Linked DNA regions of Homo sapiens: region 2 is linked to region 1. The links come from fine-mapping of genetic effects on gene expression. A gene starts in region 1. The other region holds a variant in brackets. All regions are shown on one strand. Distances are between the middles of the regions.

Region 1 (9,687 bases):
AAAGCAAAACAATCAGCAAGACTCATTTTCAAGAGCTCTGGCAAATGAGTTCTCTGGGATATGCTAGGAAAAAAATTTGTGGCAAAAGTGTTACTTCCCTGGTGTCCAAACTCCTTGCACAGTCCTTATTAGTAACTATAGTTGTTTTTCCGTCCCTGGCTCAACAAATACGAAAACTTGTCATTATTCTGAGAAATTTCAATTGTCAAAAAGCTCACCTGAGATCACACAATACTTACCAAGGTCCCGCCGCCCACACCCTACCATGGTTTTTACATTGCAACAAACCTTGAGCAACCCACTTTATCTCTATTTTCTTAACACCCTTAAGTAGAAGAGCACAAAGCTCAAATATCAAATCTGGAACATTCTCTAGAGTGGTTAGCCTAAGCCATGGAGCACCGTAATTTTAAATTTCTCAAATAACTAAGTCTTCACTAAGGCAGCAGTTCAAAACTGTTCCAGGAATTAAAATATATTCCCATTTGAGGAGTCTTCCTTCACACCTTCACCTCCTCAGCCTTAAGTATATACACACACACCCAACACCCTCAATACTTGACTAGCAACAGGCTTTACCATCTTTACCTGACAATGACCCCAGGGCGGAGATCGAAATTCTTCTTCACAATCTCTAATAGCTCTCTCTCACTCTTCTGAGAGGTACCATAATGGAAAATGGAGATAGATAATGGATGAGAAACTCCAATAGCATAAGAGACCTAAAAGGATTCAAATGTCGTAAGAATCAGTGATTGCAAAGACCCATATACTTGTATAATACGTTGGTATAAAACAAGTAGTTAAGTAGATTACTACTAAATACCCTCCCACTTACATGACTTTTAATCGTTCGTTATATAAAGAGTGTATACCTGAACAAGAACCCTCCGGCACAGACCTCCTTTAACAAGGGATTTTGCCACCCAACGAGCAGCATAAGCAGCTGAACGGTCGACCTTGGTATAATCCTTTCCTGAAAAGGCACCTCCTCCATGAGCACCCCAACCGCCATAAGTGTCCACAATGATTTTGCGTCCAGTCAAACCAGCATCACCCTGAAATTACAGGATTTAAGTTACTTTACGCCTAGTGCTTTCCAAGTGGATTAGGTTGCCTATTCTGAATTCATTCAGCAAATATCCTCCGATGATTCACATGTAGGTTTCAGAAAGCCTGAAAAAAATGTAGTAGCCAAAATTTTAAGTAACCATCAAAAATCCAGAAAAATGCAACAAAATGACATTACCTGAGGCCCACCAATAACAAATCTGCCACTTGGCTGTAGGTGGTAGATTGTATCCTCATCAAGGTATTTCGCAGGCACAACTGCTTTGATGACTTTCTCCTTTAGGGCATCCCTCATTTCATCAAGACAAACCTCTTCATCATGCTGAACAGATATAACAATTGTGTGGACTCTGATGGGAAGCACAGCACCTCGATCCTGCATATACTGCACAGTAACCTTGAAGGCAACACAGGTCATCAGAACATCACACCAAACAATAACTTTGTATTTGTTTCTCTACCTGAAGTTACAATATAGGAAAACAAATGCTATTTTTTCCAGTTAGCTATTATCAAAATTATGGATCTTCTGTGCTGATGTAATAAATGAGACAACCAAGCTTTATGATCATCACTTACTTGAGTTTTAGAATCAGGGCGTAACCAAGGCAAAGTGCCATTACGGCGTAGTTCTGCCAGTTTGGCATTTAGCTTGTGTGCCAAGACAATGGTTAAAGGCATACACTCCTCAGTTTCATCAGTGGCATAGCCAAACATTAAGCCCTAAAGAAAGAAAAGTCACCAATGTGATCAAGCTCCAGAATTTAATGTTAGAAGAGATTAAAACAGCCTCTACACCAAGATACCTGGTCTCCAGCACCAATGTCTTCTTCATTTCTGTCAAGATGAACACCTTGAGCAATATCTGGTGACTGTTGCTCCAAGGCTACCAGCACGTTACAAGTCTTGTAGTCAAAACCTATAAGCAAAAAACACAACATCTTGTTTACGTCCTAGAAATACCTGCTGTTTACAGCAATTATCTGGAATTCTAAACACTGCTGAAGAAATCAAATATACCTAAACCATCGGACCTTTTAGAGAATGAACAGAATAGGGCTTAGTGTATAGTAAGATACAACTGGAGTTTAGGATTAGCAGGAACATTCTAGGAGTTTCTTCAAACCTCACAGCTGTTACCTAGAAAAAAATGAGCAAAATCATTAAAACACACCTTTGGAAGAATCATCATATCCAATGTGTTTAACAGCTTCACGAACCACTTTCTGGTAGTCAACAGCAGCTCTGGATGTAATTTCCCCAGCAAGAAGGATCATTCCAGTTTTAGCAACAGTTTCTAATAAAAAGAGACATTCAACTCAAACATCACTTCTATAAAAATAATTTTTATGCTATCTTTCCACCAGTTGATAAGCACATTCTGAACCTACCACAAGCTACTTTGGCATCAGGATCCTGCTGAAGGTGGGCATCAAGGACAGCATCACTGATTTGGTCACAAATCTTATCTGGAAAAGAGAAATTCCTGGCTCAGTTTCTTTAACTTTAAACAAAGTATGTATGTATGTATGCAAGCTCCCTCCCTGTTACTATCTGTAAAATCTTTGGAGATTTTAAAAAACATGCTTAATACATCTTAATTCATTGTGTTTGCACTTTCCTCCTAAAATTCAAAGTTTGCATTATAAATCTAATCACCAGAAAGGTGAACTGTTAGTCCTATATCCTTTAAAGAACAGAATTTGCCCTATATCATATTCACTTCCACAACTGTACCAAACCCCTCTGCACCTGGGAGTCTGGTAGAACTGAGGCCACAGGTAGGCCAGTTTCCCTAATCTTAAGGAACACCAATTATAATGAGCAACAAGATAATTCGATTAAACAATTAAATGAAAAGCATTTTCTGACTAAAATGGCAATTATCTGATTTTGCTGTTAGGAGTTGCGCAGGAAACAAAAGCTCAACAGTGTAGAAGATGCTCAAACGTATTCCGAATCCATGTCTCCCTGCTTTGTCATCTATTGTTAGGAGGGAGAACAAATATCTCCCTAATTCAAGTTCGTTTTTCTGAATTTTCTATAACCGCCTAAAACAGAATCCAAACATAATGTGGAAGCCAGACTGCAGGCTCTGAACTTCGGTCTACTACTAACTGGTGTAACAGCTAACCTTCAGCACTCATCAAGATCCTGGGTTTGTCCTCTCATACCACTAAGTTACTTGTGGGATTTCATCATGGGCACAGTAAACTGACCAGACCCTAAAGCCACCAGATAGATAACTACTGCGGTCATCCTAAGGGCAGAAACAGCCAAAAGAGCCAAATAATCATCTTTACTAGCCGATATGCTCAGGCTGAGATTTTCAGTTCCTGGAAATATAGCTTTACTCCTCCTTCACGTGCCAATTGATCCCCATAATGGCGGTTGAGCGGACAAAGCCTCAAGTAAAACCCTGCACCGAAGACTTTAAATGCGAACCCAAAGCAATGGCAGCTCCTAATTCATGCTTCCCATCCTTTTCACAAGGGGTCCAAATAAGGACTGCCTTCTTGGACATGAGCTATATTTAGTCAGAGGCCGTCACCTTGGAGGCAAGGCCATATCCGCCGAAGGGCATGTGCGTATTCTCCAGTGTGTAGTCAAGACCTAACCACTGAGGCAGTGGAGCCAGACGACGTCCCAAGGCATAGGCCCCCCACCCCTCAAACTGAGGGCCAGGACAGCCGGGGAGGCTCACGGCTCCCCCTCGCCCAGATACCACATGCGGCAAACACGTGGTCGCCGCTGCAATGCGGGGCGCGCGCTCCCGAGGGCCGGACGCGAGCACGCGGGGCGGGTCGCCCACTCCAGGTTTGTCAGACGGCAGGGCCGGGAGGGGTTAACAGTGCCCTCCCTTCCCGGCCAGAACTCACTAGCGACCACAGCCCCCGCCCTTCACGTTTTCTGGAACCTTCCGCATGCCTAGGCGCGCGACCGAATGAAAAGGGAGGGGGGAAGGGAAGGGTGGAGAGGGGAGGGGGAAGAGGAGCGGCGGCCACGCGCCAGGCCCTGGCGGCGCCACGAGGAAAGCGCGCGGTCGCCGCTCTTCCATCACCCGGCGGACGAGGACGACCCGCGCGGGCCCCACCACCGGCCGGCCGCAGCCAGCCGGACCTTGGCGCTGCCTTCTGCCCCGCCCCACGCTTCGCTTCAGGCCGTCCCCTCACCTGGGTGGCCTTCCCCGACCGACTCTGAGGTGAAAAGGAATGTGCCCTCCTCGATGAACGCCTCGTGGAAGCCGTTGAGCTGTCCGTTCATGTTGGTGTCGGTGTGCGGAAGTGGCCTTACGAAGGAGCAGCGGCGAGGCGGCAGCGGCTGCGAAATGCGCAAGCTGCGGACAGCGTTCTACTCGTAGCAGGCGGGCGGCGCGGAGCGAACGAAGCAGCGGGCGGTGCGGCCCGGTATTTATAGAGCAGCGCCCGCGCGCGCCCGGCTCGGGCCCCGCCCCTCGGCGCCGCGCGCCAATGCACCACTTGCGCGGGGGTCGGGGGAGGAAGGGCAGCTCGCCCCGCGGAGTCCGGGCTGAACCACACTGCGCGGCCGCGGGAGGTGCCGTGGCAATCCGGCCCTCCAGAGACCGTTCAGCTATCTTGAGCCGCTAGAGCTAGGAGAAAAATGCAGACGCGAGGAGACGTGGGGGATTGCTCTTCCTTGTTTGATGTGGGAGAAAAAGCGACTGGGGCTTGCTGGACCCGCTCCCCTGTGCGGTGACATGGCACCTCCCTTCCGACCGTTGGCCGGGATAGCTTTCCCGGAGGTCGCGTCCCCCAGCGGAGGCGGCGGGAATCGCGGAGGTTTTGTGCTGCGGCTGGGGTCTTTCTGGCCGTCCCGCCTCTAGATGCCGGGTGGCAGGGAGCCGGTGGCGGTCGGCCATGTGAAGGTGGCCATCTTGGCCGGCCAGCGAGGGCTCCTCACGGCCTTCCTTCGGCGTCCCTGCCCGGCTCGTTGCCGGCCCCGGGATATCTGAGGGGCGCAGGCCCACCTTCTAGTCGTTTCCTGGTGAATGGCTCTGCTGAAGATGGCCGGAAAGCAGATTAATGAAGGTGCTGCCATCGATTTAAACAATCGCCCTCCTGCCCGCTCCCCTGCGCTAAAGTTTCTGAGGGATCCTCACCCTTCGTGGTTCGTGGACTTAAAAGTGGAGGCAGCGCTCCAGCCTTTCCCTCCAGAGAGAAAGGAGGCCGCTCCCAAGTCCGTCCTTGCCCCGTGGCCTTCCTGTTCCTTTGAAGGGGGGGGGAATCGATGTTTCAATCCTCTGTTCAGGAGAATATGGAACGAACATTTCTTTTTTGGTGGGTGGGGGCTATTCGTTCCCTTGAATGTGCTTAAGCAGATCTCTTGACGGCGTGGAATGGGCTGTTTCATGAAGCTTTCACTTTAAAATGTCCACCTGCGTTTGTCCCAGTTTTGCCCAATAAAGGAATTACAGGGAAAAAGAGCGAAACAAAACTTGAGCCAGCAAGGAGTATGGAGTCCCGTTTGGAGGGAGCCCGCCTTGGGGGCGGGGGTCTCTGCAGCCTGTTCTGGGGCTGGGCCTCGGTGCAGGTCTGGTCGGGCTGGTGGCCTGGTGGCCCTGAGCGGAGCGCGTGACAAGAACGCCGGGTTTAATGAGGTTCTCAGGGAACGGCCTGCTCCTAGCATGGGATGTACTTTACGCTGGGGAGGTGAAGGAGACCCCTAGTAACAGTCTCCAGCTGCCTACTGCTGGCGGCAGTAGAACAAGGTGCATTCCCAAGAACAATCCTCTCCGTCGGTGCAGGAGGAAAGGTGGGATTTGCTAAAGGCTCAGTGGGAAACAAAGGAAGCACTTGGGCTGTGCTGGGGGCATCCACAAAGAAGATAAAGGGCTCCTCCCCAGACTCAGTGACCACATCCACGGTCGCTCAAAGCAGGCAGCAAGAAAAGGTTCGACCACAAAAGAGACAATAGGTGATGATATTTTTATTCGTTGCTTTTTACTTTTCAAGCTAACCCTTCATGGGAAAGTAACTGTATAAGACTATTAAATTTTTTTGTTATTTTTTAAAGGAGAATGCCAATTTATTAACTTACAATGTGTAATAAAATTGTCAACTGGAACAAAATGCGTGTGTAGGCTGGTCAGTGCATTATCTCCCAGCAGAAAAATCTATATGGGAAGCCAGAATATAACTAGAAGGTTATTTTATTAGGGAGTCAGAACAAGGAGCGTAAAGTCAATGATTGGCTCATTAAATCCTGATACCCCTGTGCTACCAACTCCACAGTGGGGCTAGGCCTGCCAAGGAGATGAGATTTAGCTGTACATAGTTGCTTACCTACTTCTCTCACTTGTGAATAGTGTGTAGGTGTAATACAGTAAGAGTAGGGGTTTGGAGTCACGACCTCTCTATGCATCAGTATCCTCGTTCTGTAAAATTGGAATATTAATAGTACATCATAGGATTGTTTCAAGGATTCAAATAGTGCAAGTAGAGTCTTTAGCACAGTATCTAGTACATAATTTGTTTTAATGTAAGCTGTAAAAAAATTAACTATATTTGCTGTGAATTACTTTTCAGTGGCTTTCAATTGCTGTCGGGATACGGACTAAAATCTCTACATACTCAAGGCCCCAGTGTGATTTGGCTGCTACTTCTGCAACCTTACCTTGTGCCACACTCTCCTTTCTGTGTTCTACTTGGATTTTTTAGTTAGTAGCAGTTAATTTTATTAATTTCATAGTATCAAAACAAAGGAGGACACATTTTCATTTATTTTATATTATTCGTATTGTCCCTTCCTCCCTTCCACAAATATTTATGAGCACATCTGTGAGTCAGACCCAGGAGCAAATGCTATAACAATCCTGGTCTCTGCCCACTCGGCGCTCTAAATGTGGGGAGATGCCTGGCTAACTCCTTATCCTTCTCACTCCAGCTCAGCTACCACTTCCTGGATGAAGCCTTCATCTACACAGATTTGTCACAGGGGCCTGTGTTTTATTTCATGGCACTAAGTGCAGTTTCAAATTATAGATTTGGTGATTATTTGATGAATGTCTCCAATTCCCAGTTAGGCTTGTAAGCTCCATGATAATGAGAAGGTGGGCTGTTTTGCTCAAGCTTTGTTACTGAATGCCTGGCACACACAAGGTGCTTAGAAATGTTCAAGAGGGAGAGACAAGAAAGGAAGGGAAGGAAACGGAAAATGAACGAATATAAAGATGGCAGAAGGGGGCGGGGCACGGTGGCTCACGCCTGTAATCCCAGCACTTTGGGAGGCCGAGGCGGGGTGGATCACGAGGTCAGGAGATCCAGACCATCCTGGCTAACACGGTGAAATCCCATCTCTACTAAAAATACAAAAAATTAGCTGGGCGTGGTGGCGGGCGCCTGTAATCCCAGCTGCTTGGGAGGCTGAGGCAGGAGAATGATGTGAACCCGGGAGGTGGAGCTTGCAGTGAGCTGAGACCGCACTACTGCACTCCAGCCTGGGCGACGGAGCAAGACTCCGTCTCAAAAAAAAAGATGGCAGAAGGAAGCAGAGAAATGAGAGACTCTGGCGATCATGTGAAATCAATGGAAAGAGGTCCTGCTTTGTTTTAGTCGTAAGCATTGTAATTAATAAAATTAAGACTTCTTTGTTAACAGGGAAGCACATGGCCATCCTGTTCTGACAGGAATAAGATTTCTGATTTCATAGATGCGTGTCCTAAGGGTGAACTAAACCAGGAGAAATTGTTGGTTTATTTCCTGTTTATCGTTAATGAATTTGTTGAATGTGAAGTGTTGTAAAGCACGTAGGAAAAATCTAATCACTGCCTAAAGGCTTCAGATTTCTCAAGCCAGAGAACATTAATGTAGCAGTAACCCTACAAAAAAGGCAAAGTTGGGATTGGATAAAAATGGTATTTGTGACTCAAACAGCAAATAAAATAACTCCTTATTAGCCTGTCAGTCATGGGGAGAGTTCCAGAAAACATTTGCAGTGCAAGAAGCTGTTGATGTGGCAGGAGAAAAGAGGAGGGTGACAGTAGGGATAGCAAAGAGCAAGTGAAGGTGTGGAGGTGTTGAGAAGGAGGTTCCTAGGCTGTGTGTCTTAAGAGCACCTTCTATGTGAAGACAGACCAAGAAGAAAGAAATGTAGGCCACGTCTCCAAATTTGTGGCAGTTCTTTAGGGCCAAAGCTTAGATATCTCGGATGGCCTCAGAGGCAAGCTAGTTCTAGTGGGATCAGAAACAAGTACTATGTGAACCCCCTCATTATTAGGCTTTTTGTATTTTGTTTTTATTTCTATGTTTTTCTCTTTTGATACTTAAATCTTTTTACAGTCCCAATAAAGAAGTCCTGAATGGAAGAATAGATATGGTACAGTGAAGAAGACACTGAAGGAGATAATAATATGATGACAATAGCTACACTTTATTGTGACAGGCACTGTTGTAATATCTACTACTCACAACAGCTCTATTTCTCTTCCTGTTTTACAGATGAAGAAACTGGCATGTTATTCGTCCATGTCACACATCAAATCAGTAGTGGAGCTAGGGCCTTGAGCCTGGTCTGACCTCTAAATTCATGCCCCTTCTTATAGCCAAACAATAAATACTGCATACTCCCTGAGGTCGTTAATATTAACAATTTGGTTTATATCCTCCCTTTCCTTTTTCTGTGAACACACACACGCACACATCTTACTATTCAGAGAAACATGGATTTTTTTTTTCTTAACAATTTTCATGACTGTCTCTCCAGGATACTATGTAGAGCTGTAAATCATTTCCTTCTCTTTTACTGTGGGAAAATATATACAACATAAAATAGGTAGCTCACCAAGGAGAAAATGCAAATTGCAATAAACATATGAAAAAAATGCTCAACCTCGTTGATAGATGTGATGTTAATATATGTGTGAATTTATATATGTTTTTATCCATGGTTCCTGGCTCATAACTCCCATAGCCCTTGTTATACAGTGTTTCGTTATAATGTTGAGAGTGTTAGGACTCAGGAGCAGGCCTCAGGAAACAGAATCTCTCTGACTTTTTCCTGCTTCTCTTTCACCTGCCCCAAGGCAGGACTCTAATCTTGCCCTGCCCTTCTGATCATGGGTCATAAGACCCTCATTCCAGAGAGGGTCCTACCCCATACCCTGGGACAAAGAATGCTGAGAGGACTGGGTTCAGAGAGTTTCTGGAGAGCTGAACAGGTGGAGGCTGACAGGAAAGTGAATAAGAACTCATCCACGTGCCAGGAGGGTGGCACACCCCAACTCCATGGTAACAGAAGCTCCTACACTTGGGACCCTCCCAGACCTCACCCTATGTATCTCTTCATCTGGCTGTTTGTTTGTATCCTTTAAAATAACCAGTAAAAATGAGCAAGTGCTTCCCTAAGTTCTATGAGCCACTCTAGCGGAAAAAAAAAATTTTTTTTTTTTGAGACAGAGTTTTGCTCTTCCACCCAGGCTGGAGTGAAGTGGCGAGATCTCAGCTCACTGCAGCCTCCACCCCTGAGTTCAAGTGATTCTGCTGCCTCAGCCTACGAGTAGCTGGGATTATAGGCGCCTGCCACCATGCCCTGCTAATTTTTGTATTTTTAGTAGAGACCGGGTTTTGCCATGTTGGCCAGGCTGGTCTTGAATTCCTG
Region 2 (9,687 bases), 43 kb after region 1:
AAGCCATTAATTTGGGGGAGAGTCCCAGAATAAATTTCAAATGGATTGAAGAGTTAAGCAACATGAAAGTACCAGAAATAAATAAAGAAGAACTAAGTCTTGGGATTAGGAAACTTCTTTCCAAGCAAGACTGAAAAACCAAAAGCCATAAAGGATAAAGCTGACAAATGTATAATTTACATGACAATTTAAAATGTTTGGTAGAGGAAAGAACCCAAAGCTCTAAAGAAATCTGTGCCTAGCTGGCTTTGTTTGAGATCTCCACTGTCCTCTGAAAATGGGGAAGGAAACTGAGACCGATTTCTTGGGTGCTCTTGCTGTTACTGCAATTCTAGCCCTTCCCCCAGCTCGAGGCACAAGGAGACGCTTCACAAAGCGAGAACCTGCCTGCTCCTTCATGCACAGTTTTCATTCGGTGCTAAAGCTGCAAAAATGAGATAAGCTGAAGCCAAAAGGTATTTGGAAAGTGGAGATGAATAGGTCAGGAACTCTGTACTCTTTTTAAAGAACGTTATCTATTTGGCCTACTTATTCTTTGGTCATGAGTGCTTGAGGGAAGGCAAGGACGACAGGACAAAGAAGACTGGGAATAACTGAAAACCTGGGCCTCAAAAGCAGTAGGGGAGAGGTGATATCTCCAGAGCAGCAGGACAGGCGAATGGAGCATTTGGTTCTCAATTCGTTTATATTAGTAAGTATGAGACCTTTCCTCTTACACGTTTTGTTTTTGTTTTATTTTTTCAGATAGAGTCTTGCTTTGTTGCCCAGGCTGGAGTGCAATGGCACGATCTCGGCTCACTGCAACCTCCTCCTCTTGGGTTCAAGTGATTCTCCTGCCTCAGCCTCCCAAGTAGCTGGGATTACAGGCGCCTGCCACCACGCCTGGCTAATTTTTGTATTTTTAATAGAGATGGGGTTTCTCCATGCTGGTCAGGCTGGTCTCAAACTCCTGACCTCAGGTGATCCACTCGCCTTGGCCTCCCAAAGTGCTGGGATTATAGGCATGAGCCACGGCGCCCAGCCTCTTACACATGTTAAAAGAAAATTTTATTTATTTTTTTGAGACAGAGTCTCCCTCTGTCGCCCAGGCTGGAGTGGAGTGGCGCGATCTCGGCTCACTGCAACCCCCGCCTCCCGGGTTCAAGTGTTTCTCTTGCCTCAGCCTCCTAAGTAGCTGGAATTACAGGCACCACCACCATATCCAGCTGATTTTTGTATTTTTAGTAGAGACAGGGTTTCACCATGTTGGCCAGGCTGGTCTTGAACTTCTGACCTCAGGTGATCCACCCGCCTGGGATTACAGGCATGAGCCACCATGCCCAGCCAGAAAAATTTTAGACATATTAAAGTTAACAGAGTTTAATTGAGCAAAGAATGATTCATGAATCCGGTAACTCCCTGAACCAGAGGGACTCTGATGCTGCCATGTGGTCAGAGAGGAATTTATGGACAGGAAAAGGAAAATGGGCTGGGCGTGGTGACTCACGCCTCTAATCCCTGCACTTTGGCAGGCCAAGGAGAGCGGATCATTTGAGCCCAGGAGTTCAAGACCAGCTTGGGCAGTATGTTGAAACCCTGTCTCTACAAAAAAATACAAAAATTAGCCAGGCGTGGTGGTGTGCACCTATAGTTCTGGCTAATCAGGAGGGTGAGGTGGGAGGATGACTCGAGGCCAGGAGGTGGTGGTTGCAGTGAGCCACGATCATCCCACTGCACTCCAGTCTGGGGGATGATAGAGCAGGACTTGGTCTCAAACAAAACAAAACAAAACAAAAACAAAAAAAGGAAAATGACATACAGAAAATGGAAGTCAGGCTGGGCGTGGTGGCTTATGCCTGTAATCCCAGCAGTTTGGGAGGCCAAGGTGGGTGGATCACTTGAGGTCGGGAGTTTGAGACCAGGCTGGCCAGATGGTGAAACCCCTTCTCTACTAAAAATACAAAAATTAGCCGGGTGTGGTGGCGCACATCTGTAATCCCAGCTACTCAGGAGGCCAAGGCAAGAGAATCTCTTGAACCTGGGAGGTGGAGGTTGCAGTGAGCCAAGATTGCACCACTGCTCTCCAGCCTGGACAACAGAGTAAGATTTCGTCTCGAAATAGATAAATAAGTAAATAAATAAAATTAAAAAAGAAAATGGAAGTGATGTATAGAAATAGCCATATTGGTTACAGATCGGTGTTTATTTTATTTGAACATAGTTTGAACAGTTGACCACCTGTGATTTGCTAAAACTCAGTGATTGGTACTGTCTGTTTACACATCCAGTTAGGTTACAGTTTAATATGTTTACAGACTAAACTTAAAATATGTAAGCAGGCAGCTTTAGGCTAAACTTAATTGAACAATTTCTTCCTTTTAGTCAACCTCTTAAAATGAAGAGGTTGACCAAACTTTATGTATTGCTGTCACTTTGTCACCATAGCAAATAGACTTACTTGGTTTCAAATCCCACTGAGAAATAGTGGAACACTGTGTTTTATAAGGTGGAAACGAGGAATTTAGATTCCCTTTTTGTAAAGGGTAGAGCAGAGACGACTTCCTTATTATACTATAATCCCCTCTTTTCTGGAGAAAAAAAATCTGGTCTCTTTGGGGATCCATATGCTTCCTTAAAGTTTTAGTTTGATTGTGCTGCATTTAGCATGAGTTGACTCCATTTGGTTAGATCCAATCTAGTCTGTTGGGGCCTAGTGCATGAGTTCAGTCCAAAACAATGGCCTCCCATAATTTTGTTGAACAATTCTCCCCTTTTGATCATGTTGTCACTTAAGTGAGAGTGTGACCAAAACATCGCTAATTGCTACTCTCAGTTATGATCATTTTGGGTTTCTGGTCTCAACATGTCTTTCATAGGTTATAGTGTCCTCATGATTATGTATTTCTTTGAGATTTTGTCATCCCAGTTGAAGAGAGACCATTTGACATTCTATGCATGGCTGCATTAAACATTTACAATTTTTGAGAGGATATATTTCACCAGGGAGATGACTATTATGACTACCAGAAGGACAATACCAAGAGTTTGGAGTATGCTGCTTAGCCAGGGTCCCCATGAACTGAACCAACTAAAATTAAATAGATTAAAGAATAAGCTTGATAAATGGTCTACGAGTTTCGACCAAGCAGCCAGTTTTTTAATCCCCTGCAAATGAATCTCTATAGTACCTGACATATTCATCCATGTGCAACAAGAAGTGTCAGCAATTGGCTGGGCATGGTGGCTTACACCTATAACCCAGCACTTTGGGAGGCCCAGGCAAGAGGATTGTTTGAGCCCAGGAGTTCGAAACCAGCTCGGGCAACGTAGTGAGATCCTGTCTCTCTCTCTCTCCTCTCTCTCTCTCTCTCTCTCTCTCTCTCTCTCTCTCTCTCTCTCTCTGTGTGTGTGTGTGTGTGTGTGTATGTATATATATATATATATATGTAGTCAGCAACTGCACAGATTCTTCTCTGTTCAGCCAGTAAGTAGCCTAGAGCAGTTCTATTATGTAGCACAACTTTAGCAAAAAGTTTAAAGAAGTCTTTAGCATAGTGTTTATAGTTGAATCTGCTATAGAGTCTACTATGAGGGACAAATTTCTAATCATTGCCTCATTTACCCCAAATCATGGAAAAAGCAACCTAACGAATTATGCCCATTCAGAAGGGTGAAGGCCTCCTGGCAACGTTTGCTTCAACCTATAATGTAGGTTAAAAGAAATAGACCAATGTTCTGTTTCTGACTGATTATGGAGCTACAAAGGTACCGTGAAAATTCCTCACCCACTTTGGCCCTTCATCTTCTATCCATCAAGGCATAAGGTTGCTCATGCATAAGGTTAGCGGTGAAATCCTCCACAAATAAAAGTATACCCCATGGGTCCACACAAGACTTTTTCTAGTTCTAGTCTTCATAAAGGCATAAGCGAGGAAAAAATTAAGAGAGGTAAGAGTCTCATGATGGCAAAGAAGTCTTGATCTGTCATCTTGAGAAAGCTTTCCACATCTAGGATTCCATCTGCTTCTGGTGAGAAACTTCCCTGGTTAGCTTTATCTTGAGGTCTCCAACAGATATACAGTTCTAAGAGTCTGGAGGGGCCCTTCTGAGTTGTGAGATTACAGACCCAAGGTTCAAAGTCCTAAAGTTTTGCTGCAGTGTGGGTGGCAAGGTGTGTTGTTTCTAGAAGACCCAATCTCTATGTTCTTGATCATGAAGGATTTAATTGTCCTCAGTCAGTGGATCATGAAAACCTTCCTTACCTGGTGAAAATGCACTTTGGCATAATGCATTAAAGCCACAGTTAGCCATATCAAAGTTTAGGAGCAGAAGATACATGAGTTTTTGTTTTGTTTTGTTTTGTTTGTGTGTGTGTGTGGTTTTATTGTGTGTGTGACAGAGTCTCGCTCTGTCACCCAGGCTGGAGTGCAGTGGCTCAGTCTTAGCTCACTGCAACCTCCACATCCCGGGTTCACGGGATTCTCCTGCCTCAGCCTCTCGAGCAGCTGGGATTACAGACATGCACCACCATGCCTGGCTAATTTTTGTATTTTTGTAGAGACGGGGTTTCACCATGTTAGCCAGACTGGCTTGGAACTCCTGACCTCAGGTGATCCACCCGCCTCGGCCTCCCAAAGTGCTGGGGTTACAGGCGTGAGCCACAGCGCCTAGTCATGAGTTTCTATTATTAGGGGCATAGGCCTTCCAGTGACTGTTTTATAAAGGGTCAACTGATGTTTTCTGCTGAAAGTGGATCTAATTGTCATCAATCTGCAATACCTTTGACCAAGACAATCCAGTTGATTTACTTAGCTTTGCCTAGTACTATTTTGTCTGTAGTTTCTTATTTAACTGTTTTACAATTTGTTCAATGAAACAAATACATTTATCACTGGAGATTTCTCCAGGAATGCCCCCTGAAAAAAACACACTTCCTAATAAACTTTTAGCTACTGTTATATCATCAGACTTCTTTCGTGGGAAAGCTTCTATACAACCAGAAAATATGCATTCCGAATGACAATTGAATGAACTCCCTCTATAAATGTTCAAATGGCCAATCAGGTAGCAGAAGTGTACCTGAAGTTTTTATTGTTTCCCCAGGATTATGGATTTGACAAACTAAGCATTGGTCAAAAACCATTTTAGCAATTTAAAACGGTCACACCACACACACACACACACACACACACACA[T/CAT]TTTCTATTTGGATCATTTAATCTCTACCATAATGTGTCATGGAGTACAGAGCTTCTAAGAGTGGAAGCTTTAAGGATTCAGGAAGGATGAGGCAGCTGTCCAGGCTCTCCATGAGTTTATGCTTAACATTGGATGTATATCTTCTTCAATACCAATTTTGTTTTTCCAATTCAGGTGAATAGTACTGTTTAATAACTGGGTTGGCCTGGTGCAGTGGCTCACACCTGTAATCCCAGCACTTTGGGAGGCCAAGACAGATGGATCTTTGAGTTCACAGATCAAGACCAGCCTGGGCAACATGGTGAAACCCCATCTCTACAAAAAATACAAAAACCAGCCAGGTGTGGTGGTGCATGTCTGTAGTCTCAGCTACTTGCGGGGCTTAGGTGGGGGATGGGGAAGGGGTGGCGAAGGAGGTTACAGTGAAACGAGATTGCACCACTGCACTCCAGCCTGGGTGATAGAGCCAGACCTTGTCTCAAAATAAATAAATAGGTAAAAACTGGGTTATCACAGGTAATCTGACTTGGACCATGGAGTTCATTCAAACTGCATATCCTAACAATTTCAGTACTGGCTGATTTAGCATGAAAATCTGGCAATGGCCGGTCATGGTGGCTCACACCTGTAATCCCATCACTTTGGGAATCTGAGGCGGGCAGATCACTTGAGTCCAGGAGTTCAAGACCAGCATGGGCAACATGGTAAAATCCTGTCTCTACAAAAAAATACAAAAATTAGCTGGGCATGGTGGCACATGCCTGTCGTCCCAGCTACTTAGGAAGCAGAGGTTTCAATGAGCCGAGATCATGCTATTGCACTCCAGCCTGGGTGACAGAATGAGACTCTGTCTTTAAAAAAAAAAAGATGTGCTTGTCAGGGTCCTTTATATTCTTTCCATGAACCTCCTTGAAGACACAACACTCTATGATTTTACTTGCTCGTAAAGAGCTTTCAGAAAATGCATCAGAATTAAGTAATTAACTGTGGAAACAATTTAAAATCGTCATAGTTAAAGACCCAATTGACAAGGAAATTTGGTTATTTCTGTGGACTGTAATAATTTAACATAATAGCCATAACTGTGACTTATACCAAGACATATCAGAATTTTAGGAATCTCATACAGTCTTATTTTGTTTTTGTTTGTTTGTTTGTTTGTTTTTGAGACTAAGTTTTGCTCTTGTTGCCCAGGCTGGAGTGCAATGGTGCGATCTTGGCTCACTGAAACCTCCATCTCCCAGGTTCAAGCTATTCTCCTGCCTCAGCCTCCCTAGTAGCTGGGATTACAGGTGCCCGCCACCATGCTCAGCTACTTTTTTTTGTATTTTTAGTAGAGATGGGTTTTCACCATGTTGGCAAGTCTGGTCTCAAACTCCTGACCTCTGGCAATCCACCCACCTCAGCCTCCCAAAGTGCTGGGATTACAGGCATGAGCCACCACACCATGCCTTGTTTTTTTTGTTTTTTTTTTGTTTGTTTGAGACAGGATCTTGCTCTGTCGCCCACACTGGAGTGCAGTGGCATGATCATGGCTCAGCCTTGACCTCCTGGGCTCAGGCAATCCCCCTGCCTTAGCCTTCAGAGTAGCTGGGACCACAGGGCATGCCAACATACTTGGCTAAATTTTTTATTTTTGTAGAGAAGAGATTCCTATGTTGCCCAGTCTGATTTCAATCTCCTGGGCTCAAGGATCCTCTTGCCTTCGCCTCCCAAAGTGCTGGGATTACAGGCATGAGCCACTGTGCCCAGCCAATTTTGGAACATACATTAATAACATATCCAAAATGTAATTTGAAAGTTAAACATCAGGCCAGGCACGGTGGCTCACACCTGTAATCCCAGCACTTTGGGAGGCTGAGGAAGGCGGATCACCTGAGGTCGGGAGTTCGAGACCAGCCTGACCAACATGGAGAAACCCCATCTCTACTAAAAATACAAAATTAGCCAGGTGTGGTGGTGCATGCCTGTAATCCCAGCCACTCAGGAGGCTGAGGCAGGAGAATTGCTTGAACTTGGGAGGTGGAGGTTGCAGGGAGCCGAGATTGTGTCATTGCACTCCAGCCTGGGCAACAAGAGCAAAACTCAATCTCAAAAAAGCAGAAAAGCAAAACAACAAAAAAAGAAAGTTAAACATCATTTCTTATTTGACAATGCTTCCCATGTCACTTAAAATATTAAATAAGCCTGCTTATTGTCTCTCTTTTGGATGCTGCAGGGGCCTCCTGTAGCATTGCAAAGTTAGTTTGTGGCCTAAAAGACTTAATTTTGAATTTAAAATTTGATTTTGAGAAGCCTGTCAAAAATTTAAAACAACCAAAATAGGAGGCTGGGCATGGTGGATTACGCCTGTAATCCAAGCACTTTGGGAGGCTGAGGGGGAGTTCGAGACCAGCCTGGCCAACATGGTGAAAACTCATCTCTACTAAAAATACAAAAATTAGCTAGGTGTGGTGGTGAGTGCCTGTAATCCCAGATACTTGGGAGGCTGAGGTGGGAGAATAGCTGAGCCTGGGAGGCAGTTTGCAGTAAGCTGAGTTCTTGCCACTGCACTCCAGTCTGGGCGACAGAGTGAGACTCCATCTCAAAAACAAACAAACAAGCAACAAAAATAGGATCACAGATCACTGTAAAATAATATTTATTTAGCCAAAGTGATAATTAAAAGGTTTTAAAAAGCAAAAACCTTTATTCTTTGATAGAAAAGTCTGTTTTTCTAACAATCAAAAGACCTAATAAAGACAGCCTGAGATAGAATCTGTCTCTTCTCTTCCTTTTTTTTTTTTTTTTTTTGCAGTTTACTCAAAGATAAACAAAAATATTTTACTATCTCTTATTAATCCTACACAGGCTGGGTTTGGTGGCTCACACCTGTAATCCCAGCACTTTGGGAGGCCGAGGCAGGCAGATCACTTGAGGTCAGGAGTTCAAGACCAGCCTGGCCAATGTGGTGAAACCCCATCTCTACCAAAAATTAGCTGAGCATGGTGGTGCATGCCTGTAATCCCAGCTACTTGGGAGACTGAGGCAGGAGAATCGCTTGAACCCAGGGGGTGCAGGTTGCAGTGAGCTGAGATCATGCCATGGCACTCCAGCCTTGGCAACAGAGCAAGACTCTGTAAAAAAAAAAAAAACAAACTATACAAAATTCTTACTCAAAAGAGAAAATCAAATTTTAGTTCCATATAGTGTATTATCAATACTAAAGCTAACTTTAATGAAACCTTACCTTTCCTCACTTCTTAGAGAAGGGTCCATAGATCCATTGTTCTGGATTCCCATCATAACTTTTTTTTTTTTGAGACCGAGTTTCACTCTTGTTGCCCAAGCTGGAGTGCAATGGCACGATCTCGGCTCACCGCAACCTCCGCCTCTCGGGTTCAAGCGATTCTCCTGCCTCAGCCTCCTGAGTAGCTGGGATTACAGGAATGCGCCACCACACCTGGCTAATTTTTGTATTTTTAGTAGAGATGGGGTTTCTCCATGTTGGTCAAGCTGGTCTTGAACTCCCAACCTCAGGTGATCTGCCCGCCTTGGCCTCCCAAAGTGCTGAGATTATAGGCGTGAGCCACCGCGCCTGGCCAACTTTTTATTTATTTATTTAAAATAGAGATAGGGTCTCACTGTGTTGCCAGGGCTGGTCTCAAACTCCTGGGTTTGAGCAATCCTCACACCTCAGCCTCTCAAAGTGCCGGGATCACAGGCATGAAACACTGTGTCCAGCCCTGTCATAACTTAAAGGGAAACTTTTACGATATTTGGAGCACTGATGTTCTGGAAATTAAGGAGGAGGGTGTCCTCAAGTTCCTTGCAGCAGGAAGCCACTTAGGTAGCACCAACCTTGACTTCCAAATGGAACAGCACATCTATAAAAGGAAAAGTAATGGCATCGACATCATAAATCTGGAGAAGCTTCTATTGGCAGCTTGTGCTATTGAAAACCCTGCTGATGTCAGCATCATCCTCCAGGAATACTAGCTGGTTGGCTGTGCTGAAGTTTGCTGCTGCCATTGGAGCCACTCCTATTGCTGGCTGTTTCATTCCTGGAACTTACACTAACCAGATCCAGACAGCCTCCTGGGGGCCATGTCTTCTGGTGGTTACTGGTCCCAGGGCTGACCACTGGCCTCCTACATAGGCCTTTTATGTTAACCTGCCTACCATAGCTCTGTGTAACACAGATTCTCCTCTGCACTGTATGGACATTGCCATTACATGCAACAAGAAGAGAGCTCATTCAGTGGGTCTGATGTGGTGGAGGCTGGCCTGGGAAGTTCTGAGCATGCGTGGCACCATCTCCATTGGACACCCAAGGGAGGTTATACCTGATCTCTAATTCTATAGAGATCCTGAAGAGATTGAGAAGGAAGATTGAGAAGGAAGAGCTGCTGAAAAAGCTGTGATCAAGAAGGAACTTCAGAGTAAATAGACTGCTCCACCTCCTGTATTCACCGCTGCTCAGCCTGAAGTTGCACACTGGTCTGAAGGCATGCAGGTGCCCTCTGTGCCTGT

Direction of the effects. Positions count from the first base shown, and alleles are read on the strand shown. Sizes are in standard deviations (SD) of each study's normalised expression.
In carriers of allele CAT in region 2, the expression in neutrophils of the gene that starts at base 4,455 in region 1 tends to be lower than with T alone (large effect, 1.0 SD a copy in BLUEPRINT).

What was found. PIP is the estimated chance that this variant, and not a neighbour inherited with it, causes the effect.
Region 2: its variant is fine-mapped to the expression of MAT2A in neutrophils (BLUEPRINT, PIP 0.91).

What each region holds. Positions count from the first base shown.
Region 1 is chr2:85,533,936-85,543,622 of GRCh38, reverse strand. MAT2A (methionine adenosyltransferase 2A) reads right to left here and starts at 4,455. Exons shown (of 9, transcript NM_005911.6): 1 at 4,245-4,455; 2 at 2,463-2,540; 3 at 2,246-2,368; 4 at 1,878-1,990; 5 at 1,651-1,794; 6 at 1,250-1,468; 7 at 876-1,058; 8 at 589-722. The coding sequence starts at 4,335. PARTICL (promoter of MAT2A antisense radiation-induced circulating long non-coding RNA) reads left to right here and starts at 4,737. Exons shown (of 1, transcript NR_038942.1): 1 at 4,737-6,156. RefSeq lists silencers at 3,868-4,197, 4,378-4,647 and enhancers at 4,678-4,767, 4,838-5,047, 5,448-5,537.
Region 2 is chr2:85,491,037-85,500,723 of GRCh38, reverse strand. It overlaps the pseudogene RPSAP22. Among named protein-coding and RNA genes, the nearest start is that of PARTICL, 43 kb to the left of the region's middle. The variant T/CAT (reference allele first, on the strand shown) is at 5,175.